4 linked regions of the Homo sapiens genome follow. The protein of the gene in region 1 interacts with the protein of each later gene in a pairwise test. Each region holds a gene or a part of one and is shown in the gene's direction. Other genes may lie near its edges. The genes, in order: EAF1, BEND7, ARID4B and TNFAIP8.

Evidence for each region.
Region 2: the proteins of EAF1 (region 1) and BEND7 interact in binary tests that used the Homo sapiens proteins (3 or more experiments, as listed by UniProt).
Region 3: the proteins of EAF1 (region 1) and ARID4B interact in binary tests that used the Homo sapiens proteins (3 or more experiments, as listed by UniProt).
Region 4: the proteins of EAF1 (region 1) and TNFAIP8 interact in binary tests that used the Homo sapiens proteins (3 or more experiments, as listed by UniProt).

What each region holds. Positions count from the first base shown.
Region 1 is NC_000003.12:15,437,567-15,443,120, forward strand, and holds the end of EAF1 (ELL-associated factor 1), read left to right. Parts: intron 1-1,542; coding exon 1,543-1,589; 3' UTR 1,590-5,047; downstream 5,048-5,554. UniProt on the Homo sapiens protein: Acts as a transcriptional transactivator of ELL and ELL2 elongation activities.
Region 2 is NC_000010.11:13,518,994-13,526,031, reverse strand, and holds part of BEND7 (BEN domain-containing protein 7), read left to right. Parts: intron 1-7,038.
Region 3 is NC_000001.11:235,166,402-235,171,217, reverse strand, and holds the end of ARID4B (AT-rich interactive domain-containing protein 4B), read left to right. Parts: intron 1-2,565; coding exon 2,566-2,693; 3' UTR 2,694-4,316; downstream 4,317-4,816. UniProt on the Homo sapiens protein: Acts as a transcriptional repressor. May function in the assembly and/or enzymatic activity of the Sin3A corepressor complex or in mediating interactions between the complex and other regulatory complexes.
Region 4 is NC_000005.10:119,352,088-119,359,037, forward strand, and holds the start of TNFAIP8 (tumor necrosis factor alpha-induced protein 8), read left to right. Parts: upstream 1-3,931; 5' UTR 3,932-4,003; coding exon 4,004-4,034; intron 4,035-6,950. UniProt on the Homo sapiens protein: Acts as a negative mediator of apoptosis and may play a role in tumor progression.

The sequences.
Region 1 (5,554 bases):
GAACCACCATGCCTGGCCTCGGTGTGTTTTAATGCAGTTGATACTAAAGTAAAACAGGAAAACAAGAACAAAAATTTATTTGTTTTGAAGGTGAACAGAGGGCTAATTTTCTATGCTTTTCTCTTTTTGGAACCCTGATGAATGTTCTCTCTTGGTACACCTTCCTTTAAGGAAGTTGGAAGGTCTAGAGGTAACAGTGGGGAAGTTAACCTAGTTAATCCAACTATTGTGGACCAGGCAGAGATAATCTCAACCTCAGCACTATGGGCAGTTTGGGCAAGATAAGTCTTCTTTGTGGGAGGTTGTCCTGCACATTGTAGGATGTTTAAGAGCATCCCTGACGTCTACCCACTAGATGCCAGTACCAGTCTCTTCCCACCTCCCCAGCCCCATGACAACCAAAAATATCTCAAGACATTGCCATTATATGCCCCATCTTTAACATAGAGACTGAAGTATATGAAGAAAATCTGGCATTCTAGGTAGTTAGAAAAGGGGTGACCTCAGGATCAGACCCCCCTGAAAGGGTTTCATGGAACCCCGAGTCCTCAGAATAGACTTTGAGGAGAACTGGCCTAGAGATTAGCAATTTGGAAATAAAGAAAATCACTTTTGCTACAAGTGGTATCAACTGGGGTTCTGTTATATGTATTCCTATTGTATTAGATTGAAATGTTAAGTAATTATATTCTTCTAAATTCTGCCTAGTAAACAGGAATCTGGGGTTTTGTAAAGCACGTTAGTTCAGATTTGAAATTTAAGATAACGTGACTATCCTGGACAGAGGTGTGCCAGAGCAGATACTGCATTAGCATATTACTGGTGTTAACAGTATTCACCTTTCTTAATGGGAAGCCTACCGGATATTTTCTTAAGTTGCCTTTATAAAGCAACTTAATGTGATCAGTTCTTCCGAATGGTGATCAGTTATTTTAAATATTTTCTTTTTTTTTTTTTTTCTTTTTTCTTTTTTTCCTTGAGACAGTCTCACTCTATCGCCCAGGCTGGAGTGCAGTGGTGCAATCTTGGCTTACTGCAACCTCCACCTCTTGGGTTCAAGCGATTCTCCTGCTTCAGCCTCCCAAGTACCTGGGATTACAAGCATGTCCCACTACACGTGGCTGATTTTTATATTTTTAGTAGAGATGGGGTTTCGCCACGTTGGCCAGGCTGGTCTCCAACTGCTGGCCTCAAATGATCTCCCTGCCTTGGCCTCCCAAAGTGTTGGGATTACAGGCGTGAGCCACTGCGCCCAGACATATTTTAAATATTTTCTTGCTATTTATTAAACCATTTAAAAGTTATCCAGCTTACTTCTCCTTTGCTCTACCCTAATATGCAGTATTGTTGTGCTTTGTAGATAACCAAAAGCACCATTTTGTTTCAGTGAGCCAATTTGATTTTCTTCCCTAAGTTGAATTAACAAGGTTTTACTGTAGTGTGATAGCCAAGGCAATTAACAAAAAATTATGAGGAAGTCATTTTTAAATTCTGTACTTTTGTTTGATTCTATGATTTTACTTTATTTTTTTTTTTAAATAGGAAATGACTTGCAGTTGAGTGAGTCTGGCAGTGACAGTGATGACTAGTGCTGGATCTTTCGAAACCTACTTTTTGGTGCACAAACATGCCGCAAGACTGAGCTACTTTGGCGTGGAGTCCATTGCAAGAGGAAAATGTTATGGATCAGTGACTGTAGTAGGAGTTTGAGGCTCTGGAACTCTCACATATTCAAGTCTTTAACTTAGTGGTGATGGGTGATTTTCTCGTGTCATTTTTGAACAATCTCATCTTTCAAAGTTTAAGTAGACCTGTAGAAGAGCTAACAGAATTATATTTCTATTTAGTTAAAATTGTTAATGAAAAACAGATAAATGTGCCCTGGTCTAAGTTACTCAAAGGCCATATCTTCACCAGGCCAGAGATTCAGTTTTAAACCTCAGCAGCCATCAGTTTGGCCAAGTGGTTGGTACCAGTGGAATGAAGTCTTTGATGGGTAGGAGAGAGAGGGAAAACCTCAAACTACATCATAGAAGTATGTTAAAACCACTTTAAATTGTTGACACAAAGTGGTAAGGAAGTTTTGTCTGACTCAGCCTGACAAGCCTGGATAGAAATGGACCTCAGAATACAGAATGGAGTCCTTGAGTGTCAGTTGGTGAGGACCATGGAGTCCTGCCAGCTCAACCTGTCATTTACAGACTAAGAAAGGGAAGTACACACCTGGCTTGTGGCCAGTCTCCTGCCCCCTCTCTGGGCTTTCCTCACTGTTCTCTCCCTTGAATCTCATTTGTAGGAATCAAGAGATTCCTATACATGGGACTTTTAGATGTACATTGGCACTTGGATTAGATTCCAAAAGACAAAAGTGTTGGGTGCTTCTAGCTTGAATTCAGTCCCTAAATACATGAGGCTGGGTGAGCAGATGAAACCGGTAGCCACTGTGCTGATGCATGTGACTCCATTCAGTTGGGGATTTTGGTTCCATGTGGATCCATACTAAGTATTCTTCAGTCAGTGGATTTTAGCAAGGGGAGGTAGGAGTGGAAGAGAGGTGTGAAGAAACCTCTCCGAACAAATGAACCAGCAGTAAGTTTCTAAAAATCAGAATCTAGATAGAAGTTCTGCAATATGAAATGAGCACATTCTTTGATAAGGCGTATCTATTCATGCTTTTGTACCACTGTTTTGTACCTGACTCCCTGACCGATTTGTATTTTTTATATACAACTAGAAGGAAGTCACAAGATTGCCTTCTACAGTGTGCCATTTCCAAATGGATCTGTTGTTGGAGGAAACTGGTTGCTAGTCAATGTTCTATATTTAATGAATGTGTGATAAATCATCCTGTAATCAGTATGGAGTAACCTGTTTTTGTAGTTTGGATGAATATGTCCTGAGAAATTTCCATCCACTTTGGTTCAGCGGACATCAAGGTAGTAATAATAATTTTTCCTCCACAGGTCCCTCCACTCATATGGCCTCTCCCTCCCCAGCTAGTGGAGGGGAAGCAGTCTGGACTTAGAAAGGAAATAGGTGGTCTGTCATAGGGGCTTTCATTAGAGTTAAACTTCATAGAGTCAACTGTTTCATCATCATAGTGAGCCCAGAGAGCCACTGCCCAGCAGCATGCTCACACCACCTACCCTAGTGTAGGTAATAGGTCTACGCTAGGACCCCGTGCTGGGCTCTCAGCCCATCATGAGATTTTGGTGGATTTAATGGCAGGTAGGAACTTATTTATAGTGGATTGATAATTGCTTTATAATTCCTTGGTAATGACAGCTCAGGGAAGGTTTCACAAGGTCATGATCAGGAGACTTGAATTGTTACTGGATGTAGGAATTGTTTCACTGCTCTTAACTTGCTCAAACTGGGGCAGGTTCCAGGAACTTGAACTAAAAATATCTATTTAAGCCTCTCTCTCTTTCTCTCCTCCCCAACTTTTTTCTGAAAGCCTTGATTTCTGTAGACAGAACTATGGTTTTTGGCATGTTGGGTCAAGACGTGTTTCTATAGGAAATGCTTGCACGTGGCACTGGCTTGGTGAGTCAAGCTTCCTGAGCTTCAGACCGTTTGTCCTGTCATCTGTCCTGCCCAACACTGTATGGTTTTTCTCTAGCACGGCTTCAATTTTGTTCTCTGCACAAAGCCTTTGGTGGTTCTGCCCTCTGCCCTCCAGCTTTACCCACCAGAGTAAGCAATCTTTTCTTTTTAGAAATCAAGAATTTGGCTTCACAGATGGCTTCTCACAGATGCCCTCCTGCCAGCCAAACCGGACTTGTTCTTCCTGCCTCTGTGCCTTCTCTCATTCTCCTTCTCTCCCTCCATACCCCACTTTTGAGGTTCTGTGGGTACCATCTTTGTGGACTCTTGTCTTTTTTTTCAACCCACATGGAGTGCCCTGTGTGTACATACTGACCTTTTTTTTTTTTTTTTTTTTTTGCTTGAACTCTGGTCGGTATGAGCTCCTTAAAAGCAGGTACTGGGCTGGCTGTGGTGACTCATGCCTGTAATCCCAGCACTTTGGGAGGCTGAGGTGGGAGGATTGCTTGAGTCCAGGAGTTTGAGACCAGCCTGGGCAACATGGCGAGACCCTGTTTCTACAAAAAGAAAAAGGGAAAAAAAAAGCAGGGACTGTCATTCTCATCTCCTCCCTGGGGTATCCACAGGAATGGACATTCAAATGGTTGTAGCCTGGTGGGGTAGAAGGCAGAGAAGACTACCCAGCCAGTGAAGTGCAGAGGATAGACATAGGAAAACATTCCAGGCATTTGGAGACAGCTGAAAGTATCCATGCTGACTTTCATGATTTAGAAGTCTTTAACTGAATTATTAAAATTGCCTTTTTTTTGTGCTGTACAATGTCTACTGTACTGTGGGTCATTTAGATGAGATGAAAAACTTAATTAAATCTGAAGTGTCAGAGGCGCTTAGTAAGCCTTAGTAAAGTTGTGATTGAAGAAACTTAATACAAATGAACTAGAGGTTTGTAATCATGCCACTCACTAACGATTTTATTTCTGTAGCAGAATCATTTTTTCTATGTAAGGTGTTAATGTGTGTGTATGTGCTTTGGTTGTAGGAAAACTTGAAAATTCCAAAATCCTTATTTTCCTATTTGAGAGGCTGGTTCAGCAGGGTGTGTGTGTGTGTGTGTGTGTGTGTGTATGAATGGTATATTTATTACATTATTTTGAAAGAGAATTAGTGTGTTATGTGGATAATGTTATATACAGCCAAAGTGGATGTTTCTATTTGGCAAGGAAGGTAGGATTTCTGAAACTCAGGCCTTAACCAATAGGTTGGAAGACAAGACCAATTGAAGAGTTAGGAAATGTGAGTTTTTGTTACTTCTGTTATTCCAGTCTTGGTTTCATTGTCTCATTCTTTATTTTTAAAATCTTGTGCCTAAAAGTTTTTTTGCTTAATTATGAAGTAGACATGCATGTTTACATTTATGTAAAATATTTGCTGTGTAAAGTATTTTTTGTTTATTCTCTTAAAAGATCACTATATTTAAATAAAAGTGAAGGTCAGCAACACATTTCTTGTCTTGGTGGGTTTCATTTTCTTTTAGAAATCAATGAGCAATATAGGGTTCTTTTAAGAACCTTCTGTGCTTAAGCCTAAATAGCTAACTAAATGGATTCCTTTTTAATTTGGTGTTTATAATCATTAGGAAGTATACCTCAGCTTTTAAAAGGTGTGACATTCAAAACTGAAGGACGAACTTCAGTTTTTAAAAGGTATGAAGTTCAAAACTGAATTACATCTGAGGCCATTTTACTTGGTCTGAGAAGGAGGGCTTAGTTTGGGTCTGAGAACCATGCAACAGTTAAACTGAATCCCTAGACATATCCTATTGTCATTTTAGTTTACCAGATTCCTTCTGCCTGGAATGCTATGCCACACACACCTCTGACTCCCAGCTGACATTTGGCTAGAAATCCTGACCTCCTGCTTCCATTCTCCACTTCTGCTTCAGCAGTGCTCACATTTACCTGTGGTCTTGGCTCCTCTGCTAGACTGTATAAACTTCTAGGTAGGCAGT
Region 2 (7,038 bases), on another chromosome or scaffold:
TGTATGACATTCTTTTCAAGACCTTTTATTTTACAGATTGCCAATATATCCCTTATTAACATTGCTAAAAGTTGTAATTTCAGACATAAATGTTTATTAGTGTCTACACACAGTGCTAATTATCACTCACTCACAGAGCCAGATGCTGACTGTGCAGTTTTGTGGCTCTGCGCTCACCCCATTTACATTGCATATTCGTTGGCATGCTTCACTGGCAATAGTTTGTGTAATTGGGGTATTACATCTTTGACATCTGGATAACAGAAATTCAATTTCCAGGAAGCTGCTATTTGTTTGGTTTTGCTTCTGCCTTGGGTGGGATAGAGGATTAATGTGCTGTCTTATAATGTCCCTTCACCTCTGTGGCCCAGTTGCTAATCCTGCCATGACAAAATTAAATTAAATCTACAGTCAAAAAGCATAAGGAAAATAAAAGTGTGACTGTCTGCCTAACCAGCTCTTGATAGTGCTAGTTATCATCAAGCAGCTCCTCATTTTCCTGACTTTGTGCTCCTTTCACACCAGCATTTTGGGACAGGGGGAACAGCATGCTTTCCTCTTACCATCCTTGTTCCCAGCTCACGTCAGGGATGAGCAGAGCTAAAACAGCATTTCTGAGACTTTCCAGCAAGTGTAGCTGCATGATGGGTGGGTAGGTAGCCACAAACATTGCCACCTTTTCCATGTGCAGTGTTGGTGCAAATACTGTACAGGAAAGACTTTGGATGTGCAGTTTTTTATTTGCACACAATCAGCCAAAAATGAAACCACGTAAGATTTTGCCTCTAAGAGTGAAGTACCCATAAGGTCAGGGTGGAGAGTAGATGGTGGCGTTGGGCCTCAACCTTGTCCATCTTGGACCTCTGCAATCCCAGGTAGCAGGGTGAGGGCACAGCACTGCACAGCAAGGAAGCAGAACATGAGAGAGGTCAGAGCGAGAACGATTACAAGCAAAGCCACAATTACCCCATCAAGGGGGACTTCAGGTAGCAGGACTGCTGCTCAGACCCGGTGTGGGTCAGCCTTCAAACGAAGCTCTCGCCAGGATCTCTCTGGTTTTGCTTTGAGGGATAGAAAGGGTGGGTCGGGATGCATTGGGAAGAAGTCAAATATTAATATATACTTTAAGAGGAAAAATAGGAGGGAAATGTCAGCATTTCTTACATGAGCGATCATTGATAGCACATAGATCTTTCTGCTGAGGGAAAGAATATCACTGGGGCCAGCACTGCTCCCAGTACCTGTTTACTGTTAAGAGAGCTAGGAGCCAAAAGGTTAATAATCAAGTGAAATGCTGTGGCCCAGAAAGAGAATATTCTTGGATTCTAGTCTTTCCAGTCCCCTAAACTTGGTCAGTTGGAATTCTTTTTTTTTTTTTTTTTTTTTTGAGACGGAGGTTCACTCTTTTTATCCAGGCTGGAGTGCAATGGCATGATCTCGGCTCACTGCAACCCCTGCCTCCCAGGTTCAGGCGATTCTCCTGCCTCAGCCTCCTGAGTAGCTGGGATTACAAGCACCTGCCACCACGCTTGGCTAATTTTTTGTATTTTTAGTAGAGACAGAGTTTTACCATGTTGGCCAGGCTGGTCTCAAACTCCTGACCTCAGGTGATCCACCTGCCTCAGCCTCCCAAAGTGCTGGGATTACAGGCGTGAGCCACCGTGCCTGGTTGGTCAGCTGGAATTTTGTATTATCAAAGTACCACTCTATATAGCCATTCGAAATAACGAATTTACCCTTTAGTAGAAAATTTACGTTCACCATACAAAGGGAACATCATGTCCTTGATTTAGTTCTCCAGCAAGGCAGGCTTTCCCGCACTTTCTGTTGTGTACTACTAGAAAAGTGGTAAGGTCACTACGAAGGAAGTGAATTGTAAGGATAAGAGAGGGGAAGCTGAAGAGCAACAGGATGCTAGTGCCCAGGATTCAGTAAGCTGGAAACTCCCAGAGATGATAGACGTTGTTGCTTTTCTTCTTCCTAGTCCAAGTTGAGGAAGATGCAAGAATTCCAATGAAGGACCAGGCTTGAGATAGATACGCTTTCAAAGTGGTTGCTCCAGAAGGCCTTCAACATCAAGAGACAAAAGATTGAACAGCCTGGGAGTGTGCTGTGGGTTATTTTCAATCTTTTGCTCATTCTTGGGTCATCATGTAGTTGGTTCCCAAATAACATTTTTATTTTGTGATCTCTAGGTCAGTTAAGAAAAAATAACAGAAATTGTCACAGCAACATGATTTCTGGAGCAATTGAGAATAGTTACTGATGGCATCTGAGAGTAGGAATTTTTTGTTGACAGTGTTATAGTTTATAGTTTTATAGTTACACTTTTCAAAACATAAAGATTTCAATTATGTTTATTTTATAAATTGCTAAAGCCTGTCCATAAAGATGTAGAATTATATGGGAAGCTTATGACATCCAAGGGGGTTTGGTACCAAAATACTAGAACTCTTTCCCCTATAACAAAGTACTGACACACTGTCCCAGGGATGGTCTATAGGATTTTCTACATTCAAACATATGTGTTCCCTTTAATAGTATCTGCATCTATAAGATCAAAGTTTATGTTCTAGGTGAAAAAGAGTCTTCTAGAATGTGGCAGAGGTTCCCACATCAAGTCTACCTCTCTGGAACATGTTTAGGCTGTTAACGAACGTAGTGTATCTCACATGGTAGGGTAGCTCAGTAGTGTAAATGGCTTGGCCTCGTGCTTTAGGAATTACTCACATATTTTTAATTGGATAATAGGGTCAGAAGACGTTACTTTACCCTGTGGACATTGACTTTCTCAAGCTGGCTGTGATGGGACTACAGTGAAGATTTAAGCACTGTTTGAAAGGAAACAGTTCTCTTAAATCAGTTCAGCCAGTGTCTTTATAGAAGATACTCTGAACTCAGCACTTTTCTGGAATGGGAGTGGGGTCAGAGATAGTCACAGAAATGGATAGGACAGGGACCTTGTTCTCAGGGATTCAGATCCAGCTGGGGAGGAGACAGGACAAATTCAGGAAACGGAGCAGTATTCAGCAATCGTAAGAGCTACAGTTGTTTGAGCACTTAACTGTGTGCAAGGCAGCACACTGAGCACTTTACATGAAAGACCTGATTTGCTCTTTGCAGCATGTCTGTATGAGTTACCGTCATCCCCATTTTGTAGATGAGCCTAGAGATGTCGAGGTGACCTGCCCAAGGTCTCTCAAGTAGGAAGTGCCACAGGTAGGGTTCCAGTGCAGGTCTGTCTGAGCTTTGAACACTCCACTTAACCGCCTGTCTGTGAACGGTAATTAAATGACAAATGTGAATGATCAGGGCAACAGCAAATGCAGAGTTGGAAGGGGTAGAGGGGAGGGCTCTGCAAAGCAGAGATGTTGAACTACAGGAAAGATTCGCTCCTGTATTTCTCCTCCCTGGAGAAGATTCCAGGTGGGAAGGGTGAGGGAGCCGCCAATAAGCATCATTATAGCTCGACCATGAGTGTTGCACTTATGGTTTAGAAAGTGCTTTCACATCTGTCTTCTCGGGATTTTTACCATATACCTGTGGGGTAGTCAGGGCAGATATAATGATTCCTATAATGATGGGAACCGAAGCTCAGTTACCTGACCTCACGAATAGCAGAGGCCGGAGTAAACCCAGGCCTCCTCTCAAAAGATCTTTCCCCTCTGCCCTGTGGAGCCAGGCAAAGCCAAGGCTCATGGAGGAGGCCTTAGCTGCTAGCAGGGCACTTTTAGAAGGATTTTAATGAGACAATTAATTTATTATTCATAGCAGTAATGCAAATATAAAATGAAGTCTCTTTTCACACATTGGATTTTGGGTTAGATTTATCATAGTATGTACATTGGAAACATGTTTATCTGTCAGGTGTTCAGTCTCATTCATTTATTCATTCAACAAATTCATTGCGCTCCATTTACATCCATGCCAAGCCCTGTTCTAGTTATTCTTTTTAATATTCAGTTCAGTTATTCAGCTTCCCATAGATGAAGCACACAGTGTGGCAGCCATGCCAGCTGAGCAGGGTCGACATCTCTGAAACTCTGAAGTCTCTTTTCAGTGGCTTTCTTGATGACAGCTGCACCCACTAGAGTCCCCAGAATCTCCCCAAAGAGGACACACTCGAACAATTCCTCTGCACTTTTACAAGTTAGAGAGTTATCTCCCAGCCACGACATCGTTCTCCTCCCTGGAGGACTCGGCAGGTCCGTCTGTAAAATGGAGGAGGTCTTCACCTGGAGTCAGGTGGCCTGGGTCCCACCCTGGTTCTTGGTTGGTTTCAAAAGGCTTGGGAGCTGAGCCCCACTTCCAAGAGGAAGAAGGGTCTAGTGTGTCACCATACCTGGGGCAGGAGTTGCAACCTCAGAGGAAATGAAGGGCCAAGGGGGAAAAGTGGAACCCCAAAATCCCAGTATGTGGAAGCAAGTGCTTCCCCTCTGTTCCTCCCCACAAAAGCTCCACCTTCAGCACCCTGGCCCCACTGTGTCCTTGTGTCCCTGTGCTCCTTCTTGTAAGTCCTCTCCTTTTTTGGTGGTGGAATGAATGGGACAGATGACCAGGAGTGTCTCTTGGGGTTAGGTACGTGGCCAGTAATAGTGTTATTTACCCAGAGCTTGCTGTGTGCCAGCACTATGTAAAGGACTTTGTAAATGTTATCCCATTAATTGTCCCAAGAAACGTGTTGTTTTTCCCTCTTTATGGATGAAGAATTTGAGGAGTTCACAGAGTTACTCAGTGCCAGAGCCAGGATGCAAGCCAGGGTCTGCCTGTCTCCAAAGCAAGCCCTTAACCGCATGGCAGGCTTTGTTCAAACGTGCTCCCAAGCGGAACCCCCAGTATGTCCAGCAGATCAAAGGGGAGCAGAGCTGCTTGAAAAAAGGTCGAGGAGACCCAGAGAGCCTTACGTGCATTTCACATTCCTCTGTGGGCCTCTGCAGAATGTTAGGGCGCCCCCAGTCACTGTTTTAAAACTCCTGGTCTAGACAGTTCCCAAGGCTTCATACAGCACCTGATTTGTCCGATTATACTCTAGGACCGAAAAATGGCTTCAAAAATAATTGCAAGCAAAGTCAAAGTTTGGAGAGCCTCTTGAGGGAACTTAAATACCGATGGCTTCTTTCAATTTATGTGCACATAAACATATGTTTCGGTAGCTGTGGATGCAGAACTTGGTCGTTCTCACGTATGACTTGTTGCCTAAAGTCTGGGAGGCATTTGTAGTTAGGCCATCCGGGCACTCCATCTCTCATTTAGTTTCTATTGCAGCTACACTGTGAGGTTGCTGTTGGGTCGGCCTCATGTTTTACAAATGGGAACCTCAACTCAGGGATGAAAGTGATTTGCCCAAGGCTACATGGTCATTAGTAGCTGACCACACTTTCCAGTGGGGTCTCCTGACATCCACTTCTGAGTTCTTCACCTTGTCAGAGCTGCCACAGCTCCTTGCTCCAATCTGCCCACGTGGGCTGATCTCAGTACGTAACTTCTCACCCTCTCTCCTGCTTAGAGACTTCAGCTCCCTTGTCATGGGCCTAGAATCAAGGCAAAGCCCTTCACTGAGTGTCTAGTATGCACGGTCTGACCCGACCCATCTCCCTGTCCACAGCTTTCATGTAACCGCCTTCCCTTGAGCCAACCGGCTTCCTAAACCAGGACTTCCAGGTGCAGAGGAGGCACCACAGGGAGAAGGAATGGGGTGGGCAGGAGCTATGGCCTGGGAAAGCCCCTCCTGCTGGGAAGAAAGGAGCTAGGGCTTGTTTACTGCCTCCGGTGTGTGCTGGGCACTTCCGAACTTTATCTCATTTAACACTGAGACCAGCTCTGAGAAGGTATTGTCATTTCTACTTTTATATGAGAAAAATGGGCCTTTAGAATTGTTAATGTACGTAAGGTCATAGAACTAGGAGACAAGAGCCTGGATCTGGAATTTGGACATGGCCTGGCCACGATCTTTCCACTGTACCATGCTGCCTTGGAGGAGTGAGGCCCCGCTCTCCTCTCTCTTTCAGTTCGCTGTCTGTTTCTAAACCGCCCTTCCAGCCTTCTCTTGCTCTTCACCCTCACTGAAAACATGTGCTGTGTCAAACTGATCACATCATTCCCTCCTAAAGCACCTTCCCATTCTCATCTCTGCCATTTCACTGCGGCTCCTTCTCCATCCTAGCCTCCTACCATTCCTTACCCCATTTCCAAACTCCTTCTAGTAAAATCCTGTCTCTCCTATCGGTTTTTAAAGCTCAATTCAAATATTACCTTGGCCTGTAAGCCGCCTCAGTTTACATAGCGTAGCAGAGAGAAGTTGGATTTAGAGTCAGAAAACCTTGCTTTGAATCTCAGGCTCCAGTTCTAACACCTTGGATAACACTCTTGAGGGGTTTTCCTCATCTTCTGTAATAGAAGAATAACGTTGGCCCTCCTGACGCACATGCGAAATCCTGTATGGTAAAACGCTTTTTCAAACTGGAAAACACTGTATTTCTGTTTTTATTACCCCATTCTCTCTCCTTCTCCCAGATTTAGGAGTTATCTTTTCTTTTTTTTTTTCTTTCTTTTTTTTGAGACGGAGTCTCGCTCTGTTGCCCAGGCTGGAGTGCAGTGGCGCCATCTCGGCTCACTGCAAGCTCCACCTCCCGGGTTCACGCCATTCTCCTGCCTCAGCCTCCCGAGTAGCTGGGACTACAGGTGCCCGCCACCACACCCGGCTAATTTTTTTGTATTTTTTTTAGTAGAGACGGGGTTTCACCATGTTAGCCAGGATGGTCTCGATCTCCTGACCTCGTGATCCACCTGCCTCAGCCTCCCAAAGTGCTGGGATTACAGGCGTGAGCCACCGTGCCCAGCCTAGGAGTTATCTATTCTTCCGATCACTTGGGCACTAAGTAATAACATTACTCTTTTCTGGCACTTACCATGTGATGCCTAATATTTACTTATTTTTGTGTGTGGCTTTATTGTGCTCAAGTCACCCTGCAGATCCTCCTCCGAAACTTAACAGCTGCCACATTGAAATGTGGTTGTTTATTTTCAGGACTCTCCTAA
Region 3 (4,816 bases), on another chromosome or scaffold:
CTTCGTGATCCGCCTGCTTCAGTCTCCCAAAGTGCTGGGATTACAGGCATGAGCCACTGCGACTGGCCCAAATAAGGTATCATTCTTACCAAAAAAATTAAAACTAAAACCAATGCAGGAACAGTGTAGTGAAATATATAAGTTATGAGTTGTAATATAGTAGAATATTACTCAACTTTGAAAAGAAAAGGATCTGTATGTACTGATATGGAACAATCTCTTAAAATATATTGTTTAAAAAAAAGTCAGACACTGAACTATGCTTCCACTTGTGTGTGTGTGGTTTTTTTTTTTTTTTTTTTTTTTTGAGACGGAGTCTCGGTCAGTCACCAGGCTGGAGTGCAGTGGCGCGATCTTGGCTCACTGCAACCTCTGCCTTCCGGTTCAAGCGATTCTCCTGCCTCAGCCTCCCGGGTAGCTAGGACTACAGGTGCGTGCCGCCATGCCCAGCTAATTTTTGTAATATTATTATTAATTTTTGAGACAGAGTATCTCTCTGTCATCCAGGCTGGAGTGTAGTGGTGCAATCTTGGCTCACTGCAAGCTCCGCCTCCCGGGTTCACGCCATTCTCCTGCCTCAGCCTCTCTAGTAGCTGGGACTACAGGCGCCCACCACCACATCTGGCTAATTTTTTGTATTTTTAGTAGAGACTGAGTTTCATTGTGTTAGCCAGGATGGTCTCGATCTCCTGACCTTGTGATCCGCCCACCTAGTCCTCCCAAAGTGCTGGGATTACAGGTGTGAGCCACCGTGCCCGGCCTCCACTTATGTTTTTAAAGGTGTTGCTATATCTATATATTTTAAATTTGCATATCATATCTCTAGATTCTAGAGATAAAATTCCTGTAGAACAGGGGTTGCAAACATTTTCTGTAAAGAGACAATAAATATGTTAGGCTTTGTGGGCCATGTGGTCTCTGTAGAAACTACTTATCTCTGCCATGGTAAGTGTGAAAACTCCCATAGGCAATATGTAAACAAATAGGCATGGCTGTGTTCCAGTACAATTTTTCTTTCCAAAGACAAGTAAGCCAGATTTGCCCCTGGGGTAGTTTTTTTGCCAGCCTTTTTTCTAGAGTTGTAATGAATATGAATCAACTGGTAGCAATGGGGAAGGGAATTTGGGTGATTAGGAGGTTCCTGGATGAGAGTGAGATTTGCTTTTCTATCCTATTACCCCTGTACTGAATGAATTTTTTAAATCTGTGCATGTATTTAAAAATATTAATTTATGAACACTAATTTATAACAGAGAGGCCGGGCGCAATTGCTCACGCCTGTAATTCCAGCACTTAGGGAAGCCAAGGCAGGCAGATCACCTGAGGTCAGGAGTTCGAGACCAGACTGGCCAACATGACGAAACCCCATCTCTACTAAAAATAGAAACATTAGCCGGACATGGTGGCGCATGCCTGTAATCCCAGATACTCAGGAGGCTGAGACAGGAAAATTGCTTGAACCCAGGAGGCAAAGGTTGCAGTGAGCTGAGATTGCACTGCTGCAGTCCAGCCTGGGCAACAGAGCAAGACCCCCATCTCAAAGGAAAAAAAAAAAAAAGGAGGCTGAGGCAGGAGAATGGCGTGAACCTGGAAGGCGGAGCTTGCAGTGAGCCGAGATCGCACCACTGCACTCCAGCCTGGGCGACAGAGTGAGACTCCGTCTCAAAAAAACAAACAGGCTGGGCGCGGTGGCTCACACCTGTAATCCCGGCATTTTGGGAGGCTGAGATGGGCGGATCATGAGGTCAGGAGATCGAGACCATCCTGGCTAACATGGTGAAACCCCATCTCTACTAAAAATACAAAAAAATTAGCCGGGCGTGGTGGCGGGCGCTTATAGTCCCAGCTACTGGGGGGGCTGAGGCAGGAGAATGGCGTGAACTCAGGAGGCAGAACTTTTAGTGAGCCAAGATCGAGCCACTGCACTCCAGCCTGGGCGACAGACAGAGCGAGACTTTGTCTCAAAAAACAAACAAACAAAAAAAAACGAAAAAAGGAAACAGTGAGAGACTTCCTCTGATGAAAATAACTAATGTGTTATTTGCTTTGTAAACCTAGTGGCGGAGAATGCAACAGTTGAGCTATGCACTGTTTTGATCCAACTTGAAGAAGCAATTAAGCCTCCCACTCTTGTCACCATTTACATGTACAAGAAAACTCCTAAGTACAGAAAGATGGAGGGATTAGGAGGGGACAAATGATTTTTGGATGGATTGCAGATTTTTCCTGTTTTGATACTTGTTTCACTGTTACAAAAAGTGTATTCTGTATTTTATTTCTGTGTCTTGTAGACTAGGCACAGTTCTTTCCCTCTTTGACCCACGCAGGAGCCTTCCCTGGTCTGTCCTTTTCATTACTTCTGTAGTTGGGCACTGTCTAGCTTCTTGAGCTACACTAGCTTTTCCTTTCTTCACATCGTAGAACTGTGAGAATTGACCACTGTTGTTGTAAGCTAAATGATTTTGGACAATATAGCGGAATTTTAGTTCAGAGGACTAGTATTTTCTGTCTATTGTTAGACATAAATTTTTATTAAGCTCTTGGTTTGGTCTCCCTTTTCCTTAGGTGCTGCTACATCCTCATCCTCCTCTTCACCTTCATCCAGTTCCATAACAGCTGCTGTTATGTTAACTTTAGCTGAACCGTCAATGTCCAGCGCATCACAAAATGGAATGTCAGTTGAGTGCAGGTGACAGCAGGACTTGCTAAAGCACTTTGCACTTAATGGCTGTTGAGGGCCACTTTTTTTTTATACTGCACAGTGGCACAAAAAAATATCAGACAAGCACTATTTTATATTTAAAAATTGTTTCTTGACAAGCTGACTTGGCACTTAAGTGCACTTTTTTATGAAGAAAAAGTACAATGAACTGCTTTTCCTCAAGCAATAATTGTTTCCAACTTGTCTGGGAATTGTGTGTCTGGTAACTGGAAGGCCTTCCACTGTGGCAAATGGAGGCTTTTCACTGCCTGTAGAGACAATACAGTAAGCATAGTTAAGGGGTGGGTCAGAACATGTTAAGATAACTTACTGTATATGTATTCCCTTGTATTTTGTTAAAGCTGGAACATTTGATATTTTTCCATTTATTTATGAAAAAATATGAACCTATTTTCATTTGTACAAGGTAATTGTTTTTTAAAGCAAGTCACCTTAGGGTGGCTTTAATTGTATAAGTCAAGCACATGTAATAAATTCAAAACCTGCAGTTAACAGGATATTAGACATCAATCCTGGTAACCAAATATTAAAGATTCTCTTTAAAAAAGACTGAACATGTTTACAGGTTTGAATTAGGCTAAAAGGTCTTGCAGTGGCTTTTCATGGCCCTTCAAATTGGAATGGAACTACTGTACTTTGCCATTTTTCTATAAATCAGTATTTTTTTTTAATTTTGATATACATTGTGTGAAAAAAGAAAATGGCTAATAAACTGTATTAAATCTTAAACAATGTATAAAGATTGTACTTAGCCAGTTCAAAGTGTATATTTATTCATAATGAATTATAACAGTTATATTTTTGTGTTTTCTTGTAAATGTTTCTTTTCCCTTAAATACAGATAATTCATTTGTATTGCTTATTTTATTATGAGCTACAACAAAAGGACTTCAGGAACAAGTAATGTATTAGTATGGTTCAAGATTGTTGATAGGAACTGTCTCAAAAGGATGGTGGTTATTTTAAATATAAATAGCTAATGGGGGTGGTAGGCCTATAAAATTAAATGCCTTGTATAAAATCCAAAATGAATGCAAAATTGTTTTCACTTGTATTGACTTTATGTTGTATGATTCCAATCTCTGTTCTGTTTGGCACTTGTATTTAATTCTTCACCTTTGTAAGACATTTGTATATTGTGGATGTGTTCATTCAAGCTATTTAATATCTGGCACTGTTAATACACAGTACTTTATTGTACAGACTGTTTTACTGTTTTAATTGTAGTTCTGTGTACTTTTTTTGGATGGGGCTGGCATGTTTTCTTTGTTTCCTGGCAATACGACGTGGGAATTTCAATGCGTTTTGTTGTAGATGCTAACGTGTCAGAATCCTTTACATTCAACTTTTCTAAGAAAAGCATTTTCAGTCTTGTAGTGTGTGCTTACAGTAACTAATTTTGTTGAAAATGGTTTCAAGTTATTCAAATTTGTACAGGACTGTAAAGATTTGTTGACAGCAAAATGTTGAAGAAAAAAGCTTATAGAATAAAAGCTATAAAGTATATATTAGGATCTGCAAACAATGAAGAATTATGTAATATATTGTACAAATGTAAGCAAAGGCTCTGAAATAAAATGCCATAGTTTGTGAATCCTTGATTTTTGTTTCTAAAAGATTTAGTAATTTTAGTTCATTTCTGTATGTGATGACTGACTGGAACATACATATCCAGCACGTATTATCACAGGGGATTAATTGATACACAAAAAAAGGAAGATTCTACCTATGAAAATTAAAAGTCCATTAATCAGATAAGGAATGTATTAGGCATTCTTTTTTTTTTTTTTTTTTTTGGACACGGAGTCTTGCTCTGTCACCCAGGCTAGAGTGCAGTGGCGCAATCTCCAGCTCACTGCAACCTCTATCTCCCGGGTTCAAGCAATTCTCCAGCTTCAGCCTTCCGAGTAGCTGGGATTATAGACATCTGCCAGCACTCCTGGCTAATTTTTGTATTTTTAGCAGAGACGGGGTTTCACCGTACTGGTCAGGCTGGTCTCAAACTCCTGACCTCATGTGATCCACCCACCTTGGCCTCCCAATGTGCTGGGATTACAGGCGGGAGCCAACACACCCAGCCTAGGCATTCTTTTA
Region 4 (6,950 bases), on another chromosome or scaffold:
ATAAATACCATTTTCTTAAGGCTAAGAGAGCCAAATAACCTGGGCCAGGGAGAGGCCATGGAGAGATACCCACTTAGGCTTACTTGTGTTATGGAAGGGTAAATGTAAATGTGTCTGAGGATAATAGGAAGAACTCAAAGCCTACAGGCCTAACCAGGTGAGACCAAGACACAGATCTCTCCCGCATATGGGGAAACAGGAGTGACAGCCAACTTTTTATATAGATCACGGAAGCCTTCGAAGGCTTTCAAGGGTGTAGACAAAAATGATACAAGAGAAGTTGAAGAAGGTCTCAAAGTGAAATTGAAGGAAGCAGATTCAGCCTCAGCAGGTTAGAAAAAAAAATGACCATTTTTGGTGACCTGAAGTTTTTGCGAACTAGAGGCTATAGGTCCATAACTAGTTTACAGAGGTGCTTCATATTTTTCACTGCAGAGAACATATAACATTCTTGAATGTGAGTGGAATATTTGATACCTCCTAATTAAAAGGTACCTTGTCTTCCCAGTTCTGCCGGCTGGCCTTCTAATTTGTGTGAGTCTGAAAACTCACTGATCTCCCCTTTTCTTAACAGACATCTGGGGAGCTGTGAGCAAAAGGCCTAAAAGTCAGGCCTTTAAAAAAAACTCTTTGAACAGCTTTATTTAAGGCATAATTTGGAAAGAGATTTTTCTGCTGCCCTGTGATAAAGTTCAGTCGAGAGTTGGTGTTAATAAACCTTCCTTAGAACCAAGGTGACTTGGAAAGTTGAGTTCTTTAGGTCTGTGGTCAAATTAACAAAATTATGTCAATAAGCCCCAGGTGAGTAGGGTCAATTTACATATGACACACACAAATATTTGATTATACCTCAATGAATGAATAAACCTTCAGAATCTTAGCTACCATTTTCATTCTTCCATCTTGACACAAAAGGTGGGAGTTCCATTATTAGACACTTGCAGGAGTTCAACATAGTATTTAAATTTAAGTACAGTTTGTTATTAAATGAGAAGTGTTGCTAACTTAGTTGCAATTTTGTATCAGGCGGGCGGTAATAGTTTGTTGGTATGACTTCCATACATGTTGCCATGTGAAGGATGTTTGGGGTGTTTCTTAAACATACAAGAATCAACAAGTCCCACCTACAGGAGATAACAAATCATTATGATGTACTGGACCATTATTCACTGGGGCTAAGAAGTAAATTATCCCCTTTTGAATAAAAGCACAGCAAAATCAAAATGACCTAGTACATATCTGAGAGCAGCAGAAGGCCAAGGGGAGCCCTAGAGAATCAGCTGCCCTTTGTCACCATGTTGCAGGGTAGGGGTATGGGGCAATGCAGCCTGCCCAGAGCAGATGGCTTTGAGGTTATACGGGAGACTGAGGAATGTACTTATTCACATAAAGCCTTTTAAAATAAGCTGAGCATTCATTGCTCTTGAGCTAAAACAGAGCATTCTTCCCCAAGGTGACTGCTTGCTTGCATTTAAATACAAAAGAAGTTTCTCTCCAGGCTTCCTGAGGCCGATGGTGAATGTTCAAAGATCAACGAAGCTAACATGAATCTAAAATGAATTATAAGGCTGACGGAGCGCTTGAACTATTCATTCAGCAGTTGTAAAACAAGTAGCACATTAAAGGACATGTATTTTAACATATCTTATGTGGTTTGTCCCCAGTTGGACTTGCAAAATGACATTTAATAAATATTTCTTGTAAGGGTACTTTCTAAAAGAAGAGAGTGAAAGTAATTCTGCTGTAGGCAGATTGGGCCTGAAATTTGGGTTGTCTGGATTTGCATAATCATCACCTTGAAAAGGTGTTGCTTTACCCCAATTATAGATCAGTGGAAGCTCTCTTGTGTAGCACACGGCCCTGGTGAGATCCCTTAAGATCTCTTGTGGACTATCTGTGGACATCTGGGTTGCAGTGAGGAAGGGCAAGGATAGATGGTATAGGGAGAGAGGGGCAGAATGTTGACTTGGGCAGGACAGGAAAAGCCACTTGTGACTGGTGAGGGAGCATTTCTTTGGGTTCAGAATCATCCTCATCTCAGTGTATCTCCCCATAAGTCTGAGATTACTGAGTGCAAGGTATACATATCAGCAGCTCCTGACTCAGGATGTGTGGCAGAGGGGACCATGAAGTTAACTGTGACTTTCGGAAGGGTGCAGTCTGTTACCCTTTCGGTGGCGAGGTCAGTTTCCGGGAGGCTCTGCAACACTGATATTTTCCAGATGTTTCTCCTCTTCTCCCTTCTCTGGCTGGCTATATCTTCCTCCCTTCATCCTGCTCTTTCAGTGAAATTGAGATAACATGTTAGAATCTTAGGCAGGTTAGAATCTCTCAGCAGTAGGATGTGATTTAATATCTAGACCTCTTACATTAATATTTATAATAGCCTTCACTGCTTGTGAATAGCATAAGCACTCTTTTCTGTTCAAAGTCAATACTGAAATAAAACCCAAGAGTATGTTTTATAAAAATTTACTTTTAATGGTGCAATGGTAATAATCTATGTAGTCCTTATGGTTTTCAAATCCCTTTGTGCTTATATTACCTTATTTAATACAGACATAAATCTGTGAAGTAAATAATACTATTTTTATCTTCATTTTACAAATGAGGAACTGGAGGCTCAGAGAGGTTAATTTGCATAAGGTCATACAAATGATAGATGGCAGAACTGGATTTAAGTTCAGACTCCTTAAATCCATGTCTTTTGTACGTTCTTTTCACTAAATTTGCCATAGTGTTTCTATTGGTTTTTGCCTATATAAAATCGGAAACGAAGAAAAAGAAACGAACTGGAAAATAAATTTGTCAAAAGAGTATATTTTTTTCTCATAATTTCCAAGCGGATCTTTCAGATATGTTATTTGAGGACTTTTTGCCTCAGACTGGCGATAAAACAAGTGTTCTACAAAATACCTCCGTAAGACAGGCCTATCAGTGGCAGCTCTTGTCCCCGCTTTGCAGAAGGGAAAACCAAGGCTCCACAGAGCTAAGGGGACTTCCTCTCAGCCAATTTGTAGGGGCCTGTGGGCCAGACCCGGGGGCAGAATTGAGATCTGTTGTGAAGGCTGTCCGGCTTCTTTATTCTATCAGCATTTCAAATCCTGAAAACCTCCCCTTTGGCATTTTGAAGGAATTCATCCCCAGTTTTTGCTGGTAGCCGGGAGGGAACCGTGCTCTCCCCCTGAGGAAGGCCCTTTGGAGTAACTGCAGCAATGAGTGCCCGGGCTGTGCTTGGAGTACCAGTGCTCGCCCGGGGCTATACTGAATGAGTAAGCAGCCCCGTCTGCTTTTGCTGTGCAAAGGTAAGGGTGGAGGCCGCTCCACTTTCTTCAAAAGGCCCCGCTCTGGGACTTGTGAAATTGTGCTCTCTTAAGCTGGTCCTTGCAACCCCATGGACGATATCCATGCGACTTTCCTACAAAAATAACATACCAAAGCCGCTTTAAAATCCGTAATTTTTGGGTTGCAAGACTCCAAGACAAAGTCAAATGGGCATCAAAAAATGTAATCCAAAAATACAGAGGCATTGGTTCTACCCTATATGCATTTGCTATTTATGTAAAACTACAGTGTGCTCTGAGATGAGACTTTTTTTTTCTTTTTATACCTTTTTTTCCGCCCGTCTGGTGCGTTTGCCGACGGTTCTTCTCGGCCCTGTGTCTCGGGAGAGTCGGCTGCCGTCTGGGCCTGTGCCCCACCTGCGTGCGCCCGGGCCGAGCCAGCCCCGCCAGGTCGCCTCCGCCCGGCTGCCGGCCCGAGCGCGCGGCTCCGGGGGCGGACTCCCGCCGCCCAGCTGACACGCGATTCGTCACTCTTGCAGAACTTTCCCCCTGAAAATCCCTGCACCAGAACCCGCTCTCCCGCCCCGGGGAGGTTTTGATTTTAGTGGCTTTCTTCCTTTTATTTTCCGTCGTGTGCGGATTTCGCTGCAGAGCGAACTTGCGGCTCGTCCGAGTACATGTGAGCGGTAATCGCCCCTGCAGCTGGTTATCCTGACATTATGCACTCCGAAGCAGAAGAATCCAAGGAAGGTAGGATTCTGGTTTCTCCTGGGGGCCGGCCAAGTTCTGCGGAGGAATTTGGAGGAAGGCAGTGGTAGAAGAGGATGGGAGTTTTAAAGTGAGCGGTGGGCACTTTGTCCGCTTGCCCTGCGCCTTCGAAGCCAAGTCGGAGCTGGATAAGCGGAGCCCGGGTCTCATCTTGGGCTCCCTTCTCCCCCCGCAGCCGTTCAGAGGGGAGGGGAGGAAAAGTCGGACCTAGTTCAGCCAGCCCACTAAGTCTGCTTTTTAGCTTTCTCTGGAAACGAAAGAGCCCCACTTGGACTCCAAGAATGCAAAATGTGCTTGGAAAAGGGCTGCCTGCCTGCATCAGAAAGACTGAAAGCGGGATCCCTGGAAGAGCCCTGAGTGGAGGGTCCCTTGAAAAGGGGTTTGAGAAATTAGAAACGCTATATGTTTCCGGCTAAAAGGGGAAGCTGAGTGAGGGGAAGCGAAAATCTGTATTTGAGAAATAGATTAATTTTTTTTCATTGCTGGGTTTTCAGCAGTGAGTTCATTTCGTTGGGGGTTTGAGGGGGCTGAAAGATATGAGGGGGTCCTTGTGCAGCTTGAAACTGAGAAGAGTTTGTCTGTTTCTAACTTCGCAAAAGCAAAGGGTTTCATTTACTCCTAACAGAGAACAGGTGACAGGGCTGGAAAAGCTCCAACCAAAACACAATTATACGCTGGTGTTAGTTTGGGGAGTTTATTTGTGTGTGAGTGTTTGTATGCTTTGTTCCTTGAAACTTTATGTATACAAAAGTTCTCTTGTAAGTGGGGGGTGGGAGTAAGGGTGGTTGGGGAAAATTAGAGAGTAAGAGAGGAGACTATTCAAGATTGTGAAATACTCTTTCTTTTCATGTAGTCTCTTGGAAAGCTGGTTAATTTCAAGTCAATCACAGCAGTTCTGGCAGAGGAGCAGCCCCATCATTTCTCCATTTGGTAGACACCAGTTAGGAAGAGCCCTTGAAACTTGTCCTCTTCTGCCTTTTACTGATTCCCCTCCCAGAGGAAAGCTTTGTGTTTCACCATGTAGTCTTTGTGGGCTCACGTTTACCTTATTATGCTGTGTGAGGGAAATAGTCAATAAAAAGGAGGTTTGTTTAATAGAAATACGGGGCTGGCATGAATGAAAAATGACAGCCAGGAGCATTGTTTTTGAGTTTGATGTGGAGTATGGGGGGAGTAATGCTTTCTTGCCGTGTCCTGTGTTCTGATGGAGCTGTGTGCTGATAGATGCTTTTCTTTTCTATGTCTTTATACCAGCAGTTTATTCAAAGTCAAAGGTAGTTGAAGGCAAATAGGAACCAGGCTGAGAGAACTCAAGGGTGAACTTCTGTGTGAATTACAAGTAGCACTTAAGCTGGCGTTTTCTCTCAGGTGTGTTTTCCCTGTCTTTTGAGAAAGAGAGAGTGGGAGAGAAAGTGGAAAAACAGTATCCCAAAGTGTGTATTATACATTCCCATAGCAACATCCACAGTCTTCCCTCCTCGAGGGCCCAGCTCTCTGGTTTTAAGTTTGGAAGCAGCCTGCAAACTGGCCTATGAAGAGGTTAATGGGGCCCCTTCTGCTTGTTCCTCACCTTCCCTCCACTTGTCATCATTTACATTCTGCAGATCGGCCACAAATGATATGGCGCTCTGCTTTTTAAAGAAAGCCCAGAATGTTTCTTTTAAAATAATCTGAGGTAGTAGAATTTTAAATTGATAGCAATTAGGGTGGGATACTGAATAACTCTTGAGGGAGATTGAACACTTTATTAATCAGATAGAATCATATAGCTTCTGCCAGGAAATGAAGGATAGGTGTCTGTGTGTTTTGGGTGTGTTTTCTCCAAGGCTGGTTCATTGGCTGTAATCTAGAACCTTCTGGTTAGCTACCACCACTCAGATGTCGATGAAGCGAGCTATGTTGTGTAAATAACTCAGTTATCTTCTCTATCGTTACTAGTCCTTTTCCTCTTATACGTAGCTTTTTTTTTTTTTTTCATCCTGGTGAACTTATGTATCCCATTTAGTGTGAGATCACCATGAGTTCTTAAGAATGTCTGTATTGCAAGAAAACTGCCTTTGGATGCTTCATGCCTGATACGCTGTAAGAGGAGATACTTTTAAGTCATTTTTCTCAACTGTAGTGAGAGACTAGTATACTTTGGGGTTGAATCTAAGTCCTTGGAGGCCAGCATATTTTTGCATATGCGTGAATGTAGAAGCAAATGACTGGGGATATTGTTAAGCCATCAGAGCTTAAAACATACTTGACTCTGTGCCAGGGGTGCTGGATATTTGTCCCCAGCCTATAGCCATCTCCTAAATAATTGATTTAATTTTTCCTGCTTAACAATGAATAAGTGATTGTGCTTGGGTATTAAACAGAGAAAAATAATCCAGGCCTTGCTTTATTAAAAACTGAATGAGTTTAAATTATTCAGACATAGAATAAATAGGAAAGAAGGGGAAATGAAAGAAGAAACTCACTTTTTTAAAAAGGTGACTACCATTAAAAAGAGGATATCAACAGTTTCCAGTGGATGGGGCTTCCTGAGGAGATAGGCTGATAGCCGTGTATTTGGCATTTAGTTGTTTCCTGAGTAAATTGCTTAATTATGAAGTAGTTAAAGTGAGTGGCAGTTGAGATCTCTGAGAATCTTTCTAGTGCTAAGCATCAAGGCATCCAGGGCTCCTTTGCTCTGGATGTTGAAGCATTGATACCAGAAATTGAGAAAGCCATTGTTAAGGGGTGGGCGAGGTGTCACTTTGTGGGGACTTGGAAAAGAGTGAGGATTGAGTGGTGAGTGAGTCTGGCTCGCTCCTCCATTGCCCATAGTAGCCATTTCCCACCACCACCTCACCCAGTTCTTACTCTCATGCCTCACCAGGCCTGCTATTTCACAAAGAAAACAGTAGCCAT